Regions from separate parts of the Homo sapiens genome. Here region 2 is linked to region 1. A link means that fine-mapping ties the variant in region 1 to the expression of a gene that starts in the linked region. Tissue or cell type: whole blood. Region 1 holds a variant in brackets; the other region holds the start of a gene. All regions are shown on one strand. Distances are between the middles of the regions. Region 1 overlaps PRDM4 (PR/SET domain 4). Region 2 holds the start of PWP1 (PWP1 homolog, endonuclein).

Region 1 (4,395 bases):
GTTAGTGCTCAGTGAAGAGACTGACTTTGTTTTTGATTATTCAACCTTTGCCTGGAAAAGACAAAAAACCAGTCTACCTGTCCACCTGTCTTCATCACCTATCACACAGTAGGCACTGAATGACTGAATGTCCATTAAGGGCAGAGGATCATCCCTTGTCATGATTTTCCCACTTGGGCCTAGCATTCCAAATTTAAAGTTCCCAATGACAGTGGTACCTTACCTTTCCAAAGATCACAAGACCCATTTTCTCCTTACTTCAATTTCGCAAGCATCATTCCCAATAGATATCTATGTGAAAATGTTGTATTTCTAACCCCTCATTAGAAAACTAGAAAAATAGGCCAGGTGCGGTGGCTCACACCTGTAATCCCGGCACTTTGGGAGGCTGAGGTGGGCAGATCACTTGAGGTCAGGAGTTTAAGACCAGTCTGGCCAACATGGGGAAACCCCGTCTCTACAAAAATACAAAAATTAGCTGGGCATGATGGCAAGTGCCTGTAAATTCAGCTACTTGGGAGGCTGAGGTGGGAGAGTCACCTGAGCCCAGGAGGTAGAGGTGGCAGTAAGCTAAGATTGTACCATTACACTCCAGCCTGGGCAACAGAGCAAGACTCCATCTCAAGGAAGAAAAAAAAAGAAAACTAGAAAAATAATCTTAGCTTCTTATTCCAGAATTATTTCCTAAGATAAACATTTGAGGAATGTTTTAATTACAAAGTAAGACTTTTATCATACAAACAAAGTCTGTGGCCTCAGCAGTCACAAGTAATTCAAATGCATTAAATGGTTAAAATAATTGGATTAACTCACAAAACAGAGACAAAAACAGTTTGTCCTCTATTTCCAGTAGCTGGTGTTTTGCTGTATGTTATAATTTGGCTACCAAGAATGATGAATGTAACATTTAAAAAAATGTACGTGAAATAAATGACTGACCAGTGAATGGCACTGTATCAGTTCTGGCTGATTTTGACTTTATCATAACTTTTTAACTACCTCTTACTAAGAAAAACAGCCAAAAGCCACAGAAAAGTTTCATCAGGACTGACCTTCCAGATATGGTTAACTGCCTTGTCTGTCCATTCTGCTACTTCCATGGAGTGACTCTGCTGGCCAATTAGAGGTCCAAAGCAAGTCCGCACAGGAATGGTTTCTCCAGTCCATACACCTGTCAGTGGAAGGACACCAACTACACAATCAATGATTTAAACAGCAAGATACAGAAGAAAGAGGTGCTTCACCCATGCAAAGAATCTTATTTTCAATGAATTTAACCAATATGTAGGCTGGGCGTGGTGGCTCACGCCTGTTATCCCGGCACTTTGGGAGGCCGAGGTGGGCAGATCACCTGAGGTCAGGAGTTTGAGATCAGCTTGGCCAACAGGGTGAAACCCGGTCTCTACTAAAAATACAAAAATTAGCTGGGCGTGGTGGCGCACGCCTGTAGTCCCAGCTACTTGGGAGGCTGAGGCAGAAGAATTGCTTGAACCCAGGAGGCGGAGGTTGCAGTGAGCAGAGATAGGGCCAATGCACTCCAGCCTGGGTGACAAAGCGAGACTCTGTCTCAAAAAAAATAAAAAAATAAAAAAAACAATATGCTAGCATTCCTCAGAGGTGACTAAGCCTTGTGGGTCCTAGCCCTGTAAATATATAAAATGTAATGAACAGATAACATAGGGCTCACAATAAATGCTGAGTAAGAAGAAATATCAGGAATTCCTGAACCTAGTTTTATCCAAAGGGAATCTTTTCATGTCTCTCCAAATACATTATTTTGGAGTTAAATATAAAAAAGTTTGTAGCTCACACATATAATGAGCCAACACTTTGGGAGGCCAAGGCAGGACTGCTTGAGGCCAGGAGTTCGAAACCAGCCTCGGCAACATAGTGAGATGCTGTCTCTACAAAAAAAATTTTTTTTTTAATTAGCTGGGCATGATTGCATATGCCTGTAGTCCCAGCTACTTGGAAGGTTGCGGCAGGATGATTGCTTGAGCCCAGGAGGTCAAGGCTGCACTCGAGTTACTGTACTC[C/T]GTATGTTAGGCCAGTGCACTCCAGCCTGGGCAACAGAGTGAGACCCAGTCTCTTAAAAATAAATAAATAAAAAATAACAGAAAACATTATTCTATTGTAAAAATATAAAGCAATTACTATAGAAATAAATCAGACTTCTAAAATCTTTTGTGCTTAAAGCACTGCTCTATTTTACCTAAACTGTTTGATGCTTTGAAATGACTCACACCCAAACTGCAGCTAAAAGAATAATGAACCTAATTTTATATTTCCAAAGAAATGTCGCAGTAACTCAGAAGCCATGCTAAATTCAAATATGGGTAAGTAAAGTCTGGCAATCTACATTCTTTATTCCTTTTATCTAAGGAGCATTATATAATTTACAAACATTTGATCTAAAGTTGTGTCATAAGGTGAATTTTCCATGTTTCTATAAAAGAAACTAAGTTTTAAGAAATGTGTTGTTAGAATAATTGTTAGTGGATGAGACAGATGAGAATAAAAGTTAAATCTTCAAAGACTCAGTCTAGGATTTTTTGCTTTACTCAATACTGATTCTAACAAAGGAGAGATTTCCCAATAAAGTTTTTGACTTGATTTATTGCTATCATCAGTGGACAAGACTAATATTCCATAAAAGCATAAATCTTAAGCCATAAATTGACTTTTGGTCCAAATAATTACTAAATTATACACATCCACTTTTACAACTCTACGCTACAAAGGAAGAAGAGATGTAATAGTGTTTTACAGTTCCAAGGTTCTTACCAACTTCTGCTCCCACAATTGACTGACGGAGAACAAGCTGCTTTGGGAGAGAAAGCCTTGCTCTGCTCTCTATTGGAGTGTCAGGAACAAAAGTCACTGGTCCATGTTCGGGACAGTCCGAGGGATAGGCGCGGTCACACAGAGTACACCCTGTAGATGGCAAATTTGAGCAATACAAATGGGTTTAGTTCAAGCAGGCTAAATTACCACCACGGTTTTTTTTTTTTTTGAGACAAAGTCTTGCTCTGCACCCAGGCTGGAGTGCAATGGCGCGATTTTGGCTCACTGCAACCTCTGCCTCCCGGGTATAAGCGATTCTCCTGTCTGAGCCTCCCATATAGCTGGGACTACAGGCGTGTGCCACCATGCCCAGCTAATTTTTGAATTTTTAATAGAGACAAGGTTTCCTCATGTTGGCCAGGCTTGTCTGGAACTCCTGACCTCAGATGATGCACCCACCTCAGCCTCCCAGAGTGCTGGTATTACAGGTGTAAGCCACCATGCCCAGCCCCAGGTTTTAATTTAAATGCTAATTACTAAAATGTATCCAGTAAGAAGCACGGTTCTAATAGAGATATTCTTATCAAAGACTCACTTCCTTACACTAACATATATACCTACTCTTACACCACTCTTCAGACTTCAGTAAGATCTGATTTTTTTTCTTTTGATCCAACAGGACAAGTTTCCTATTCAGTGCATAAGAGAAACACTAATGAAAAATTGGCTGGGTATGGTAGTTCACGCCTGTAAACCCAGCAGTTTGGGAGGCTGAGAAGGGAGGATCACTTGAGTCCAGGAGTTCAAGACCAGCCTGGGGTAACACAGTGAGATCCCATCTGTTTAAAAAAAATTAAAAATAATAATAAAAGAAAAAAATAGCACCATATTACTTCAACAATCAAGTACATTATCCCTTACATTAAGTAGATCGTACATTTAGGTATGATGCCCTAAAGTCCAAAAGATTCCAATTCTGAACTGTAAGAGGAAACTGAGTTGAAATGCTGTTAGTTATGCAGAGCCAAAATATGGCCACGGTGGTACAGCTGGCTCTGACCCCAGTGACCTATGCTATGAACATAGGACACTGGCGTCAGAGCCAGCTACACCACTGTACTCTTTTGCTTCACTATAAACAAGATGGTCAACCAAGTTTTGAGGACACATTCTTAAGACAAAAACAATTTGCAGCCTGCTCTTTCAAAGGGCAGAAGAATTGTATTCTTGCAGACATTATTTGCTTAAAATTCTTAATTTCTTATTTTTCATATGGTCTTTCTTTCTGCATTGGCAGAGAGGATGCTCCCTTTATATATTGTTCTCTATTCTTACTACAACTTCACTTTCACAAGCTTATGAGTGTCCTCCTCCGTAAATCTTCTGCTCTATTCTTTACACTTTCCACTCTGCTAAGGAACAGTATTTATGATACTATTACTCAATCATTACATTTAAACTCCACAACCATTCACAAAATAGTTGGAATACATAAACCTTAGAACCACAGTCATCTATCTGTCTTTTCTTTTTTTTTTTAAGACGGGGTCCCGATCTGTCACCAAGGCTGGAGTGCAGTGGCGTTCCTGCTTCAGCCTGCTGGGTAGCTGG
Region 2 (4,395 bases), 60 kb before region 1:
TCGGCCTCCCAAAGTGCTGGGATTACAGGCATGAGCCACTGCACCCAGCTGAGATCTGATAGTTTTATAAAGGGGAGTTCCCCTGCACATGCTCTCTTCTTGCCTGCTGCCATGTAAGACATGCCTTTCTTCTCTTTTGCCTTCTGCAGTGATTGTGAGGCTTCCCCAGCCAACTGAAACTGTGAGTCCATTAAACCTCTTTTTCTTTATAAATTATCATGTCTTGGGTATGTCTTTATTAGCAGTGTGAGAACAGACTACCACAGTAGCCAAACTTTATATGGTGGCTCAGGGCTCCAAACATTAGTGTTCTACTGGTGGGCAGTGGGGGAGTGGGTGGGGGGTGTGGAAGTGGAGAAGTGGGTGTGGTGGTGGGGAAGCAAAACCTGCATCCTATTTATGACTTAACCTTGGAAACATCATTTCTGTCATACTTTATTGGCCAAAGCAGACCTACAACTACCCAGATTCAAGTTGGTGGGGGCGGGGGGGGGTGCTTTGATGGAGGAATATCAAGATCACGTTGCAGACAAACATGTGTGAAGGACTCTATTGTTGCAGCCATCCTTGAAAAATATTATCTGCCATATGGTCTTTCTAAAATGGGTTAAAAGCAAAGAAACCACAGAAGAATCATCTTACAGAAACAGAGCAGGGGGAGAAGTCTTAATGGACAAATAATCTGCCTACACAAACAATGAGCAATTTACTTCTGGGAGGATCTCTCCTCAGGCAGGGAGATTGCCAAGCGCATTAGGCTGAGTAGAGTTGGTGACAGAACTCATAGTTGTATCAGCTCCTCTGTGTGTGATCTGAGTAGGAAAGTATTTGACTACTGGGGACTCTAGCTTCATCTTTAAAACAAAGTGTTGTGAGAACCAAGTAAAATACTGTATAGAAAGATAAATGTGTTGCAAAAAGGTCCCCGAATAGAGCCCACAGGTGGACACCCCCCGTTTGACAATGCCACTGGGAAAGACCATGTGTACTGCCAGTTTATCCTTGCCACTGTTTCCCCATAGCAGCCACCTTCCTGTTTCTTTTGCTTGCCTCTCTCAGAGGTAGATGCATTGAGGGTAAATGACCAGGACAGGGCCACACAGCCAAGAGATCAAAACCCAGATTTTTCTGGGATGCTAGTTTGAGATTTTCCATTCTACAAACGTCCAGCCACTCACGAGTTCTAACAGATGACTGATCTTAGCTGAGAAGCATGACATAGATACAAGGGAGTCACACTGCCCGGGTTCATATCCCAGCTGCACCGCTTACTAGCAGTGTGACCTTTGGAAGGATCGCTGTTTTCCCAGGTGTAAAACGGAAATAAGACCTCCCACAAAGGGGTAAGTAATCACGTGATACGGCACTCAAAACAGCGCCTTCAACATAAGTAAGCCCTTTGTGTTTGCCAAGACTAAATCACTACTGCATAGTTAGTATATAATTGGTGCTAAATGTTTTTTTCTCACTTTTTTTTTTGGTGCTAAATGTTTTAAGGTGAGAAAGTAACATTTAGGGATGTAATGAGATGTAATGGTGGGATCTCCGTGAAACGACAAATTCATTTTGGAGAAAGCTTTTTAAAAAACGCAAACCACAAACCTCTGCCATTTGTCAGCTTGAAGTCTACGGAACTGCAAGCAAAATAAAGATTGGTGAAACTTTGCTTCTGACTGACCCCTACAGTCCCAAATATTTTCTTGGCCTTTACAAAGCCCGCAGGCATCGTCACATGCAGTCCTGAAAAGCCTTTTCTCTATACTTCACACAGCCCAGACCAGCCCACGTGGATTCCTCGCCCGGCTGCTTCCGCTTCCATTTTGTCCCCTCCTATTTCTCATTCGGCGCCTCAGAATGACGTCTGAAATGAGCGCCGACGCTGCCCAAACAGGAGCCTGCGCATGCGCTCTGCCCTGGCAGCGGCCCTGTGCAGATCCCTGAGCGTGTGGCAGCAGTGCGGTCGTGGTCCCTCCCTATGCAGCCTGGTTTCTAGCGTGACACGCCCTTGACTTGAGGACCATGAACCGCAGCCGCCAGGTGACGTGCGTGGCCTGGGTCCGCTGCGGCGTGGCCAAAGAGACACCAGACAAGGTGAGGCCTGGTCGCTGGGAGACAAGGGGAGCAGCGTCTTTACGGCACTGGGGGTCCGCCCAGCTGGGGGAACGTGGACCCGGAACTCGGGGCGTTGGCTGGTGCGACTGGCTGGGGTGAGGGCGGCTTTGCCCGGATTGTCGCGACTAGAGCTGCAGTTCAGAAGGTCTGGTTCGCCTGAGCCTGGAGAGTCAAGGGCCGCGCCTTCTCACTGTTCCCACCCTCAAGCCCAACCCCACTCCCAAATTCGCACGCACATGGACTTAGCGGGCCGGAAAGGGGTGGGCTGCTGTTTTTGGTGGGTAATACCCCAAAAGGCTTTTTGACAACACCACTAGCTTCACTAGCACCCAAGTGCATTTTCAAGCATAACTGGGAAGAGAGCATGAAAACTCCACTTTCCACTCTTGTGCTCCGTGTCTGAAGGAGTGAGGATGAATGTGGTGTAGAAAAACTGGTGTGGAGGCTAAGATGTCGTGAGGCTGGGAGATGAATAGGGAATTTCTTGCAGTAATCCAAGTGAGATGTTGATGGTAGCAGGGAGGATGAGAGGTAAATGTCTAACACATGAAAAACCTACAAGAGTTGGAGACTGAGACTGTAGCAGAGGTGACGATTACTTAAGTAATTTCCTCATTGGATACTAAGTGCTTTCTGTAGGCCAGGCATTGTTCAGGGTCCTGGGATAGGCATGAACAAAATAGAAAAAGTCCCGCCGGGCGCGGTGGCTCACGCCTGTAATCCCAGCACTTTGGGAGGCCAAGGCGGGCGGATCACGAGGTCAGGAGATCGAGAGCATCCTGGCTAACACGGTGAAACCCCGTCTCTACTAAAAATACAAAAAATTAGCCGGGTGTGGTGGTGGATGCCTGTAGTCCCAGCTACTCGGGAGGCTGAGGCAGGAGAATGGCGTGAACCCGGGAGGCGGAGCTTGCAGTGAGCCGAGATCGCACAGCTGCACTCCAGCCTGGGCGGGCAACAGAGTGAGACTCCGTCTCAAAAAAAAAAAAAAAAAAAAAAAAAAAAAAATAGAAAAAGACCCTGCCTTTATGGAGTCGACATGTGCACATATAGTATGTCAGTGGGAGTTAAGTTCTACCAAACAGTAAAAGGGGTTGATTTGAATGTACTTGACCAAGATAATGATGATGGTGATAGGAATGTGATTGGCTTGGACATGGAGTTAACAGGAATGACGGATTGGAGTAGTCCCAGTAGTTGTAAATTCCACCTGGGCACAGACTGTTTTATTTACTGTTTCTCCAGGGTTTGGTTGATGGTAGGCACTCGGTGTTACATTTATAGAATAGGGACAGAAAATTATTTCATATAAAAATTGTTGGAGGAAACAGTTATTAAAAAGAGACATATAGCCTTTCAAATACTTGAAGACTGATTTCCAAATGAATCTACACATTGAAAATCTCACACTTGGGGAGGTTCAAAAAATACTGATGTTTATGTCCCACTCCCAAGTATTGTGTTGTAATTAGCCTGTAGTGTAGCCTAAATTATTTAAGATTCCCTAGGTGATTCTGATGTACAGATAAGTCTGGGAACCACTATTTGAAGAGTTTATAGGAAAAAGAGATTGAATTTATGAAATCCTAGAAAGGAAAACTTGGACCAAATGAGAGAAATTGGACAAGCCAGTTGCGGTGGCTCGTGCCTGTAATCCTAGTCATTCAGGAAGCTGAGGTGGGAGGATCGCATGAGCCCAGGAGTTCACAGCTGCAGGGAGCTGTGACCATGCCACATCTCTTAAAAATTAAAATTAAGGCCGGGCACGGTGGCTCACGCCTGTAATCCCAGCACTTTGGGAGCCCGAGGCAGGTGGATCATTTGAGGTCAGGAGTTCCAGACCAGCCCGGCCAACATGGTGAAACCCAGTCTCTACCAAAATACAAAAATTAGCTGGGCGTGGTGGCGCGTGCCTGTAATCCCAGCTGCTCAAGAGGCTAAGGCAGGAGAATCGCTTGAACCCGGGAGGTGGAGGTTGCAGTGAGCCGAGATGGCGCCATTGCTCTTCAGCCTGGGCAACAGAGCGAGACTCCGTCTCAAAAAAAAAAAAAAAAAAAAAAAAAAAAAAGAACAGAGGACTCATGTAAGGGTGATTTGTTAAGGAATGCCCACAGGGAAGAGAGGGAGAGGTGCCCTAGACAGAGTCAGAGATGGTTGGAAGAAAACCAGACGAGTACCACACAGCCACTTTACCAAAACCAGTCTTTGGAGTTTTAAGACTAAGAGGTGGAGTAGAATGAGCATGATTTTTGAAGTTTCAGGTAGCGAGAGATCTTATTTGTA

What was found. PIP is the estimated chance that this variant, and not a neighbour inherited with it, causes the effect.
Region 2: PWP1 starts here. The variant in region 1 is the best candidate, but not a certain one, in a credible set for the expression of PWP1 in whole blood (TOPMed, PIP 0.62).

What each region holds. Positions count from the first base shown.
Region 1 is chr12:107,743,491-107,747,885 of GRCh38, forward strand. PRDM4 (PR/SET domain 4) reads right to left here. Exons shown (of 12, transcript NM_012406.4): 6 at 2,785-2,934; 7 at 1,053-1,171. All of the region lies in intron 3 of PRDM4-AS1 (PRDM4 antisense RNA 1), which reads left to right. Among named protein-coding and RNA genes, the nearest start is that of PRDM4-AS1, 9.1 kb to the left of the region's middle. The variant C/T (reference allele first, on the strand shown) is at 2,037.
Region 2 is chr12:107,683,881-107,688,275 of GRCh38, forward strand. It overlaps PWP1 (PWP1 homolog, endonuclein), which reads left to right and starts at 1,919. Exons shown (of 15, transcript NM_007062.3): 1 at 1,919-2,091. The coding sequence starts at 2,020. RefSeq lists enhancers at 1,728-1,987, 2,208-2,257.